Homo sapiens: one gene and its partners. The protein of the gene in region 1 purifies or fractionates together with the protein of each later gene. This does not show direct contact. Each region holds a gene or a part of one and is shown in the gene's direction. Other genes may lie near its edges. The genes, in order: ARL3, ARPC1A and ARPC2.

Evidence for each region.
Region 2: the proteins of ARL3 (region 1) and ARPC1A purify together in Homo sapiens (affinity purification with mass spectrometry; one large-scale study listed by BioGRID and IntAct). This does not show direct contact.
Region 3: the proteins of ARL3 (region 1) and ARPC2 purify together in Homo sapiens (affinity purification with mass spectrometry; one large-scale study listed by BioGRID and IntAct). This does not show direct contact.

Annotation. Positions count from the first base shown.
Region 1 is NC_000010.11:102,700,876-102,704,528, reverse strand, and holds part of ARL3 (ADP-ribosylation factor-like protein 3), read left to right. Parts: intron 1-3,653. UniProt on the Homo sapiens protein: Small GTP-binding protein which cycles between an inactive GDP-bound and an active GTP-bound form, and the rate of cycling is regulated by guanine nucleotide exchange factors (GEF) and GTPase-activating proteins (GAP).
Region 2 is NC_000007.14:99,328,771-99,332,423, forward strand, and holds part of ARPC1A (actin-related protein 2/3 complex subunit 1A), read left to right. Parts: intron 1-3,653. UniProt on the Homo sapiens protein: Probably functions as a component of the Arp2/3 complex which is involved in regulation of actin polymerization and together with an activating nucleation-promoting factor (NPF) mediates the formation of branched actin networks.
Region 3 is NC_000002.12:218,241,186-218,244,838, forward strand, and holds part of ARPC2 (actin-related protein 2/3 complex subunit 2), read left to right. Parts: intron 1-3,653. UniProt on the Homo sapiens protein: Actin-binding component of the Arp2/3 complex, a multiprotein complex that mediates actin polymerization upon stimulation by nucleation-promoting factor (NPF).

The DNA of each region.
Region 1 (3,653 bases):
AGCTGGGATTACAGGCGCACACCGCCATGGCCCGCTAATTTTTGTATTTTTTTGTAGAGCCAGGGTTTTGCCATGTTGGCCAGGCTGGTCTCAAACTCCAGACCTCAATGATCCACCCACCCCAGCCTCCCAAAGTGCTGGGATTACAGGTGTGAGCCACCACACCCAGCCTATTCTTTTTTAAAAAATAGCTTTATCTTCTCTGATTATGAAAGTAGTGCATGTAGAAAACACAGAGAAAGTATAAAGGAGAAAACTCTGAGAAAAACCATGGTTAATATTTTACCGTGTACTTTTCAGACTTAATAAATACAAATATGTATCAATTTTTAAAAGAAAAAAAAATTACCTGCCTTTTTTTTTTTTTTTTTTTTTTTGGAGACAGAGTCTCGTTCTGTTTCCCAGGCTGGAATGCAGCAGTGCAATCTCAGCTCACTGCAACCTGCGCCTCCTGGGTTCAAGTGATTCTCCTGCCTCAGCCTCCCAAGTAGCTGGGACTACAGGTGCACGCCACCACGCCTGGCTAATTTGTTGTATTTTAGTAGAGACAGGGTTTCACCGTTGTTGCCCAGGCTGGTCTCGAACTCCTGAGCTCAGGCAGTCCACCTGCCTCGGCCTCCCAAAGTGCTAGGATTACAGGCGTGAACCACCTTGCCCGGCCAATTACCTGCCTTTTTAAATCCAGTCTCATCAACCTTCCTCTTTCCTGAAAAGGGCAAGCAAGCAAAGCATAAAGGATAAGGGAATGATAGTGCTCACAGCGTGGAGGTTTAAAGATGAGTCCTGGGCCGGGCGTGGTGGCTCATGCCCATAATCCCAGCACTTTGGGAGGCCGAGGTGGGCGGATCACAAGGTCAGGAGATCGAGACCATCCTGGCTAACATGGTGAAACCCCGTCTCTACTAAAAATACAAAAAATTGGCTGGGCGTGGCAGTGGGCACCTGTAGTCCCAGCTACTTGGGAGGCTGAGGCAGGAGAATGGCGTGAACCCAGGAGGTGGAGCTTGCAGTGAGCCGAGATCATGCCACTGCACTCCAGCCTGGGCGACAGAGCGAGACTCCATCACAAAAAAAAAAAAAAAAAAAAAAAAAAAAAAAAAAAAGACAAGTCCTGGGCACCATGGCTCATGCCTGTAATCCCAGCACTTTGGGAGGCCGAGGTGGGTGGATCATGAGGTCAGGACATGGAGACCATCCTGGACAACATGGTGAAATCCTGTCTCTACTAAAAATACAAAAATTAGCTGGATGTGGTGGTGTGCACCTGTTATCCCAGCTACTCAGGAGACTGAGGCAGGAGAATGGCTTGAACTTGGGAGGCGGAGATTACAGTGAGCTGAGATTGTGCCATTGCACTCCAGCCTGGCGACAGAGTGAGACTCCGTCTCAAAAAAAAAAAAAAAAAAAAAAGACAAGACCTGATTGGAAAAACTGTAGTGGGTTTCTTAGAACTCATTCCCTGTAGGAAATCCTAAGAATGCCTGACCTTTGGCTAAGCCAACAGGGAGAGCTTGTTGGTCTTAGTCACTTTAAAGTGTTTGAGCATTAAAGGTTAGAGGTTTTAGCAAAACCAGAGTTATTTTCCATCACTGTACCGTGATAAGACCCTGGTGTCAGGTTTGAATGGCTGTGCTGGTGTGCATGCATACTTCACGGCCCATGAGTCTTACTGATTCACAACTCTTTATGGAAAAGTCATTTCAACTGCTACCAAATGAACAATTTTTACAGCTTCTGAACAAATTTAATGTATAGCCCAAGCAAATTACAGTAATCTAGCCTAGAAGGGCTGAAAACACATATTAGTGTGTCAAGATTTCTGCCAGAAAAAGAAGCACTAGTTTTTGTGTGCATGCGCTTGTGGGGTTTTTTTGTTTTTGTTTTTGTTTTTTTAGTATTAGCAATAAACTGTGTCTCTCAAGAACACTAACGTGAAGACTTCCACACTGCAAACACAGAAATAAACTCAAAGTTAGGAACCCAAAGTTCTCATTCTAACCTTCAGGCTTTGTTTGATGTGTTATAGGTAACTCTGATATTATATTGTGTCAAGGTTTCATATTCTTTAAAAACAAACTTTTATTATGTTTTTTGTTTTATATTAGAAAAAGTAATAAATGCTCATTGTAGTAAATTTAGGAAGTATAAATAAATACAATTGAGAAACTAAAAGTCACCTATAATGCCCAGTCAGACATACCACTGTTCACATTTAGGAATGTATCAAGTTTTTTTCTATGCATATATATGATGGGTATATTTAAAATAAAAAATAAAAATGGCTCATAGAGGATATACTAGCTTGTATCATCTATATCTAGATATAGATTTTTTTTAGAGACGGGGTTTCACTCTGTCGGCCAGGCTGGAGTACAGTGGCACCATCCATAGCTCACTGCAGCCTCAAATTCCTGGGTTCAAGCAATCTTCCCACCTCAGGCTCCTGAGTAGTTAGGACTGCAGGCATGTGCCACCACACCCAGCTAATTTTTTTTTTTTTTTTTTTTTGGTAGAGATGGGGTCTCACTACATTGCCCAGGCTGGCCTTGAACTCCTGGGCTCAAGCAGTCCTCCCGCCTCAGTCTCCCAAAATTGGGATTATGGGTGTGAGCCACTGAACCTGTCTCCTCTTGTTCACTTAATAATAGATCATGAACATCTTTCTATGTTATTATATATGTAAATACTTATGTAATATACATCTCTAAATGTTTTTGCCCATTCATCATTATTATTTCCTCAGAATAAATTCCTAGATTTGTTGGGTCTCATGACTTATAGCTGTTTAAGCCCATTGATACATATGGTCAAATTCCAAGATTCACTGTTACTTGTATTCCAAGATTTACTGTTATTTATTTTCTGCTTTATTCCAGAAAGGATTCAGTATTACTGAGTTTGACATTTAATATCATTGTTGAGTGTGGAATTTTTAAATACACTAAAGTAGTTTTGCCAGTGAGTCACAATGAAACTTTTTTCAATAAGCTTAAGCCATTTCCCTTTAGAATTCTCGAACTTCTAATGTATTCAGTCATTGGCGTGTTAGAGAAGTGAGAGTCAGCAGGATCCCCAGTTATCCTCCAGAGACTGTGTATCCGCAGTGGAAATTGGGTGGCAATATTCCTGTCCTATTGCACTGTGCCTTCTCCTTCTGTGCCAGGCAGCAGTGTTGACAGGCTACCACATGAAACAAATGTTTGTGGAGGCATCCCCAAAGCTATCTAACTCCAGTTATTCTGGATGAAATGTCTCTTCTGTGGTAGCAAGCTGTTGACTGGGTTTTTCAAATCCTGGTTTCCCTATGTAATTTTTGCAAGAAGACTTTAAAAAAAATTCTTGTTCATGCAATACATTCTCTGGGAACCCCAAAGGGCTTGTTAATTTGTTTCTTTCCACACTGACCCCCACCTGGCAATTCTGCCTGTCCCTGATTTGCTCACCTTCCTCAAAGTTTCACCTCAAGTAACTGTCTTAAAAATGAAGACTTCCAGCCCGGTGCAGTGGCTCACACCTGTAATCCCAGCACTTTGGGAGGCTGAGGCGGGCGGATCACCTGAGGTCGGGAGTTCAAGACCAGCCTGACCAACATGGAGAAACCCCATCTCTACTAAAAATACAAAATTAGCCAGGCATGGTGGCGCATGCCTGTA
Region 2 (3,653 bases), on another chromosome or scaffold:
GAGACCCCTGTCTTTACAAAAAACTAAAAAATTAGCAGGGCATAGTGATGCATGCCTGTGGTCCCAGCTACTCAGGAGGCTAAAGTGGGAGGATGGCTTGACCCTGGGAAGCCGAGGTTGCAGTGAACTGAGATCACACCACTGCAGTCCAGCCTGGGTGACAGAGCAAGACCTTGTCTGAGAAAAAAACTCAGAGAGAGAGAAAAGGGATGAGGGGGGAGGGAGGGAGGAAAAGAAAAGGGATGAGGGGCAGGGCGCGGTGGCTCACGCCTGTAATCCCAGCACTTTGGGAGGCCGAGGCAGGCGGATCACGAGGTCAGGATATCGAGACCATCCTGGCTAACACGGTGAAACCCCATCTCTACTAAAAATACAAAAAAATTGGCCGGGTGTGGTGGCGGGCCCCTGTAGTCCCAGCTACTCGGGAGGCTGAGGCAGGAGAATGGCGTGAACCCGGGAGGCAGAGTTTGCAGTGAGCCGAGATCGTGCCACTGTACTCCAGCCTGGGCGACAGAGCGAGACTCCGTCTCAAAAAAAAAAAAAAGAAAATAAAGAAAAGGGATGAGGAGTTCCTGGCATTTTTATTTGTCCCCTTTTCTCCCTCTCTAGCTCTATTAAGACAAAGCTTTTCAGATTTCACTTAAACATTAACCATAGTTTAGAAATTATAATTATCACCCTATGACAGAAGGTACCCTTTCTTGGTACATAATTCAAGCTATTAGGAATTTCTTCTGCATTCACTGGGTTTCATGAATGCAAGTGGTGTTTGCTAGGTGCATTCTAAATTTGACAAACATGAGTGTTGTCTTGGCCTGCAGACTTAAAATAGCCACCTGATTATAAAAGAAGTACAGGTCTTAAGTGTATGTCCAAATATGGAACTTGAATGATATGGCAAAATTAGAAATGCAATTTTAGAAGTAATTACACTGTTGTGTAAATGGCCACCTCTTTTGAAGTCTTTGCTACATTGCTTATAAAACACTGAGTTGAACATGAGAAAGCCTTTTGTCTGCAGCTGTACTTTTCAACTGGACATGAACCATGTACTTTTATGGCACGTAGATATTCACATCAAATTTCTGATTTGCAGACCGATTTTATTTTTAGTTAACAAATAAGCTTATCAAATGTGGCTTTTGAACTAAAGCGCTTTTAATTAAGGAGTTATAACAGCATGTTATTTTGAGTAGCTGTTACTAAAATCTGTTGTGATGGAACAATTTGGAGTGAGCATCTGATATCAGAGATAAAGAGAGAAGCATGCAGTGAGCATCTGGAAGTTCTTGTAAAAAAAAAAAACAAATTAAACATTCTCATTTGAATGCATTTAAAATTTTTTTAAATTGCCAATTCCTAAGCTTTTTCTTTGTTAGTTGTAGTTTGCTTTCTCGACTGTATAAAAGAAAAAAGTAATGACTTAACTATCTTCACTCTTAGAATAGAATATGAAATGCTAGCATTTCTCTGCCAGTTCAAGGTATCAGATGTTTTTTATTTAAAGTTGCACTTACCTTTGGGTTCCCCCCCCCTTTTTGTTTGTTTGTTTGTTTTGTTTTGATACAGAGTCTCACTCTGTCACCTAGGCTGCAGTGCAGTGGCACCATCTTGGCTCACTGCAACCTCCGCCTCCCATGTTCAAGAGATTCTTGTGCCTCAGCCTCCTGAGTAGCTGGAATTACAGGTGCCTGCCACCATGCCCGTCTGATTTTTGTATTTTTAGTAGAGATAGGGTTTCGCCATGTTGGCCAGGCTGGTCTCGAACTCCCGACCTCAGGTGATCCGCCCACCTCGGCCTCCCAAAGTGCTGGGATTACAGGCTTGAGCCACCATGCCTGGCCTGGGTTCCTTTACAATTAGCAGAGGTGCTGCTTCTGCTTTCTGAGACTGATTTCTGCTTTGTCAGCTGAACTTTCATTGTTCACTTTACAACCTTCTAGTGGCCCTTCCATTCATTTCCTGCTTGCATCAGAATTCATATCTCACATTTCAGCCTCCACCCAAGGTTAACATGACACATACTTACGTGTGTTGAAACTTGAGTTTATTGTGAGGGTGCCTCCTGGAAATGATAAAGTTGGGGGTAGAGGAAGGCTGGCTGCTTTTTGAAAAATGTTCCCATTTCAGTTAATGGTTGCTTCTTCAAGTGTATCTAGATTTGGGTACCTATAAAATAGAGAATTTTTAATTTAATGTTTTGCAGATTCCTGCTTTTCATTTAGTTACAATTAAAAGTTTAAAAAGTATTATCACAAACGCCTACATACTCTTTGCCTAGATTCACCAGTTAGCATTTTGCCACATTCACATTCTATATATTTTCTGTCCTGAACTATTGAAAATAAGTTACAGTGGCTGGGCATGGTGACTCATGCCTGTAATCCCAGCACTTTGGGAGGCTGAGGCAGGTGGATCACTTGAGCCCAGTCAGAGCAGCCTGGGCAACATGGTGAAACCCCATCTCTACAAAAATTACCTGGGCTTGGTGGTGCATGCTTGTAGCCACAGCTACTCAGGAGGCTGAGGTGGGAGGATCACTTGAGGCCAGAAGACGGAGGCTGCAGTGAGCATAGATTGCACCACTGCCCTCCAAACCTGGGTGAGAGAGCAAGACCCTATCTCCCCTGCCCCCCACCCAAAAAAAGAAAAGAAGTTACAGAAGACATCATGATACTTCATCCCTGAACACTTCATCATTATCTTTGTCTCCTAAGAGCTAGGACATTCTCCTATCTAATGGCAATACCGTTATCACACCTAAGAAAATGAAAATAATTCCATATGTAATATCTAGTTTAAATTGTAATTTTCCCTGTTATACAAAATACATCTTTTCTGCCCATTTTTTAAAATGTGGATTATGGGCCAGGCACAGTGGCTCACACCTGTAATCTCAGCACTTTGGGAGGCTGAGGAGGGCGGGTCACTTGAGGCCAGGTGTTCAAGACCAGCCTGGCCAACATGGTGAAAGTCCATCTCTACTAAAAATACAAAAATTAGCTGGGCCTGGTGGTGCACACTTGTAATCCCAGCTACTCAGGAGGCTGAGGCAGGAGGATCACCTGAGTCCAGGAAGTGGAGGTTGCAGTGAGCTGAGATGGTGCCACTGTACTCCAGTCTGGGCAACAGAGTGAGACTCTGTCTCAAAAAAAAGAAATTATATTATAATCAACTTTCACTTATCAAATTTGGTTTTCATAGCTCTCTAGAACAGTTCTCATCCTGCCTCCATATTGCCTTTTTGGAATAGTCCAGGCCAGTTCTTCTATAGAATGGCACACACCCTGGCTTTAACTGTTTATTTCCTCCTTGTGTTGCTTGACTAGTTCCTTTATCCTTTATTTCTTGTAAACTGAAAATTAGATCTGAATCTTGATTGGATTTAGAGTAAATATGTTTGGCATAGAGACTTCATTGGTAGGTTGACCATATTCCCAGGTTTCTCCAGGATAGCCCTGTGACCTGTTGTGTTGGCATAATTATTATTTATTTTTGCTCTCAGAAGTGTTCTGGTTTGGATGGTACGTTAAGTCACTATTTATAAGTGACGATGTGTACTTCATGTGGACTGCCATCAGGAGGCCCATCCAGTTAGATTGATCCACTATTTATAACATGGTGATTACGTGGTGATTGCCAGATTTCTTCAA
Region 3 (3,653 bases), on another chromosome or scaffold:
AGTTGAAAGACAGCTGTGCTTAACAGTAAAGATACTTTGCATAGCCTTCTAAGTGGCTAGGAAAATCTTCAAAAGTGATATTCTCAACTGCTCCATCCCTAGTGGCTTTTGTATTTTGGCTAATTAATCAGAAACTAGTTTGGGAGTCACTATACAGAAAAATTGGAATATTGACACTTCAGCATTTGCTAGTGCTGAACTTGATGAAGGAATATATAAATATACATGTATCTCTTGGGTCCTAAAAGTAAGCCTCTAGAGAGGCATTTCATGTGTTTTTATGCAGAATTGACAGGGGAATTAAATGCAGTAGCTCAGAAATTGGGCTAAATCCAGAGTAACAAAACTAATTTTAAAAGCTCTGAAGTATATATTTAGATTTGGCTGGTTTTTTACCAATCTTATTCCATTTTATTCCAGGAAACAACTTATTTTTATACTTTAAACAGATCTTATCTTGGAGAGTGTACCGGAGATTTGTTCCTTAGGAGAATTTTGTGTATTCTTTTTTGGCATATGATTTAAATGCCTCCTTCAGGGTACCTGTGGTAGGGCACTTACCTAAAAGGAAAGACAAAGCCTCTTTTGCATTTTGGCACTAACAGGATCTCTGGATAGTAACTGGCCTGGTGCAGTGCTAGCTAGACTCAGGAAGTCATCTGCCCTGCCACCCTTTCCAAATTCAGAGGCTTAGGTAATTTGTTGGAAATGACAATCGGAAACTGGACTTTTGCTGGATTTTCCCAAAAAATAAATAGAACTTTTTCCTAGGCCTGGAATTGTAAATTTCTCGGAAAAAGAATGAGGGACACCTGGCACAGAAAGTTGTACCCTGAGAACACTATTTGAAGTTCCTCATGGTCACTAGTCTACTTGTTGCCAGCCTTTGTGGCCTTTCCCTTCCAGCATGCACATCCAGCCTGATCAGAATTCAAGTCTTGCTTTTGTCATTTGGCAAGCAGGCTCTGAGGGATGCTTTCTACCTCTCAGAAAAAGACAGGAAGTGTATTCCTCCACACTAGTGGTATGGGCATATCAGCTGAGTACTGGAGAATGTCTGATAGAAGCCATCATTTCAATGCTTATTCCATGAAAAGCAATAGGACCAGTAATTATGCTTTTGGAGATTAGCTTATGGTGAACTAGAATTCTTTTCATATTCTAAGATTTTAAAGTCAAGTTAGTAACTAAATAACCAGGAAAAGTTAAGTGGAAACCACTGGTTTTTATATGTTCAGGGACAAAGACACAAGCACCTGCCTCTTAGGCAGTTGTAAAGATGTATTTTGAGGGCCCTTTCTGCCTGTTTGCATGTGTGGGTATGTCTGTAGGATATTTTCCTGAACTGGGAACACTGAGTCCAAGTCAGTAATTTTGGTAGACATTGCCAAACTCTTCTCCATCAGGGTAGTGGCATTTTATCATCTACCAGTGATGGAGAGGAGTGCCTGTTTTCCCAGAGTATGTTGTAAACTTGTGGATTTCTCCTGATCTGATAGGTTAAAGGTGGTATCTGTGTCTGCTTATGATGACATAAAAAGATGTTCTGAGGTCAGAACATCTTTTCTTAATGTTATAGACCATTTGATTTTCTTATGAAGTGTCTCTTTATGTCCTTTACCCATTATTCTGTAGGGTCATTGAGCTTCTCAATTTCTTTACATACTAGGGAGAGTAGCCTTTCATCTGTGATTAAGAGTTGAAATATTTTCTCCAGTTTGTCATTGGACCGTGTTTTGTGGGGTTTTTTCCACCATGTGGAAGTTTGTTTTTACATAATCAAATTAATCAGTCTTGCCTTTTATGGCTTCTAGATTTTGAGTTATAGGTAGAAAGCCCTTCCCTACTCGAAGGTTATAAAGAAATTTACCTGTTATTTTCTGAGTATTTTTACAGTTACATATTTTATACATGATTTTTTCTTATTTGTTGAGAGCTCCTCTTGTTGTATGGTATGAAAGAATGATCTTTTTTTCCTAAATGGCTATCCAGTGGTCCCAGTGGCAATTATTTCCTTTTTTACACCCCTGATTTAAGATGCTACTTTTATCATATGCTAAATGCCTTGTATATATTTGGATTTATTCCGAACTTCCTATGATAAATAGTACTTTGGAAGAGAGAAATAATCTGATGCTCAAAAGACATCCTAGCCAGAAGGAGAGTAAAAAGGCAATATTGCTTGATTACGTATAACAAAGATGCCAATGAAGATGGAGGGCTGTTTGGGTGTGTTTGTTTGTTTAAGCTTTATTTAGGAGAGAGAACTGAGGAGAAGCAAAGACATCAGAGAATCTAAAGAATAGTCCCAGTCAGGCACAGTGGCTCACGCCTGTAATCCCAGCACTTTGCGGGGCCTAGGCAGGTGGATCACTAGAGGCCAGTTTGAGACCAGCCTGGCCAACATGGTGAAACCCTGTTTCTACTTTAAAGGCCAAAAATTAGCCGGGAATGATGGCACACGCCTGTAATCTCAGCTACTCGTGAGGCTGACACATGAAAATCACTTGAACCTAGGAGGTGGAGGTTGCAGTGAGCCAAGATCACGCCACTGCACTCCAGCCTGGGTGACAGAGTGAGACCCTGTCTCAAAAAAGAAAGAAAGAATAGGCCCAAGCCAGAAACGTATCGTTGACCGAGCCTTAAATATGTTATTTTCCATATACAAAACTAATGAGTGCTAATAAGTCACCACTGGTTTATAAATACCCCATCTCATTGTGAATACCACATGTACCTGTGAATTAGAGCCTTGGAGACACTTAACAGACACAAGAAAATGCCAACAGTTACGTATCTGTTCTGTTTAATTCCTTAATACCGAAAAGTAAAACCAGTAAAAGTTAAAAAGCTTCTTAACCCCTTTGTAGAATAAAAAATGTTTTCTAGAGAAGGGCGATTTTAGAAGCTTTGCTCTAGAAATTTCCATTTGGGATAATCTTGACTCCTTCCCTTCCTTTTTGGATATTTTTCCTTCGGGGAACAAAATCTGTTCAAAAGGGGACTAATCTAACCCAGTTGATGGTCATTTCTTTTCCTACTTAAAGCTTGGTAGTGTTAGCATGAGAGGCAGTTTGTGAAATAGGTGAGGTCCCAGGCTGGGCATTGGGGCTCCTCAGCCATCATCTTTCTTTTGCCACTAATTGTCGAGAGGGCTTGCTAATCAGTGTTTATTCTTCCTGCCTGCAACTGGAAACAGCCCTTGCCTATTCCTGTACAGTGTGATGATACTAAACCAGCTAGGGTAGAAGCACTTGCTTTCTCTCAGCAAGGCATGTGCTGCATAGCCTCTTTGAAAGACAGAAGAATAAATTACAAAGATAAATTAAGCAGGATCTTTGATTTGAACTCATAACCTGGTAGGGGAGCCAGATACATTAATGAATGGTAAAATATCATAGTAGAGGTTTGTAGAAAAGACATGGCAGCTCCAGCAAGAGAGCAGTACCTGCCTGGGTTTGTTGGAGATGGTATTAGGAGGCAGTATTTGAGCAGCAGTAGAAGGGCACGCAGGCCACATGGCTGTGTAACCATGCCTTCAGAACTCCTAAAACAAGAGACCTTGGAGAGTCCTTGGCAGCATCCTCCTGCTGTCTATCATCTTGGAAGGCCCACTTGATGAATTTGGATTATCCAGTTTTACTGGCATTGCT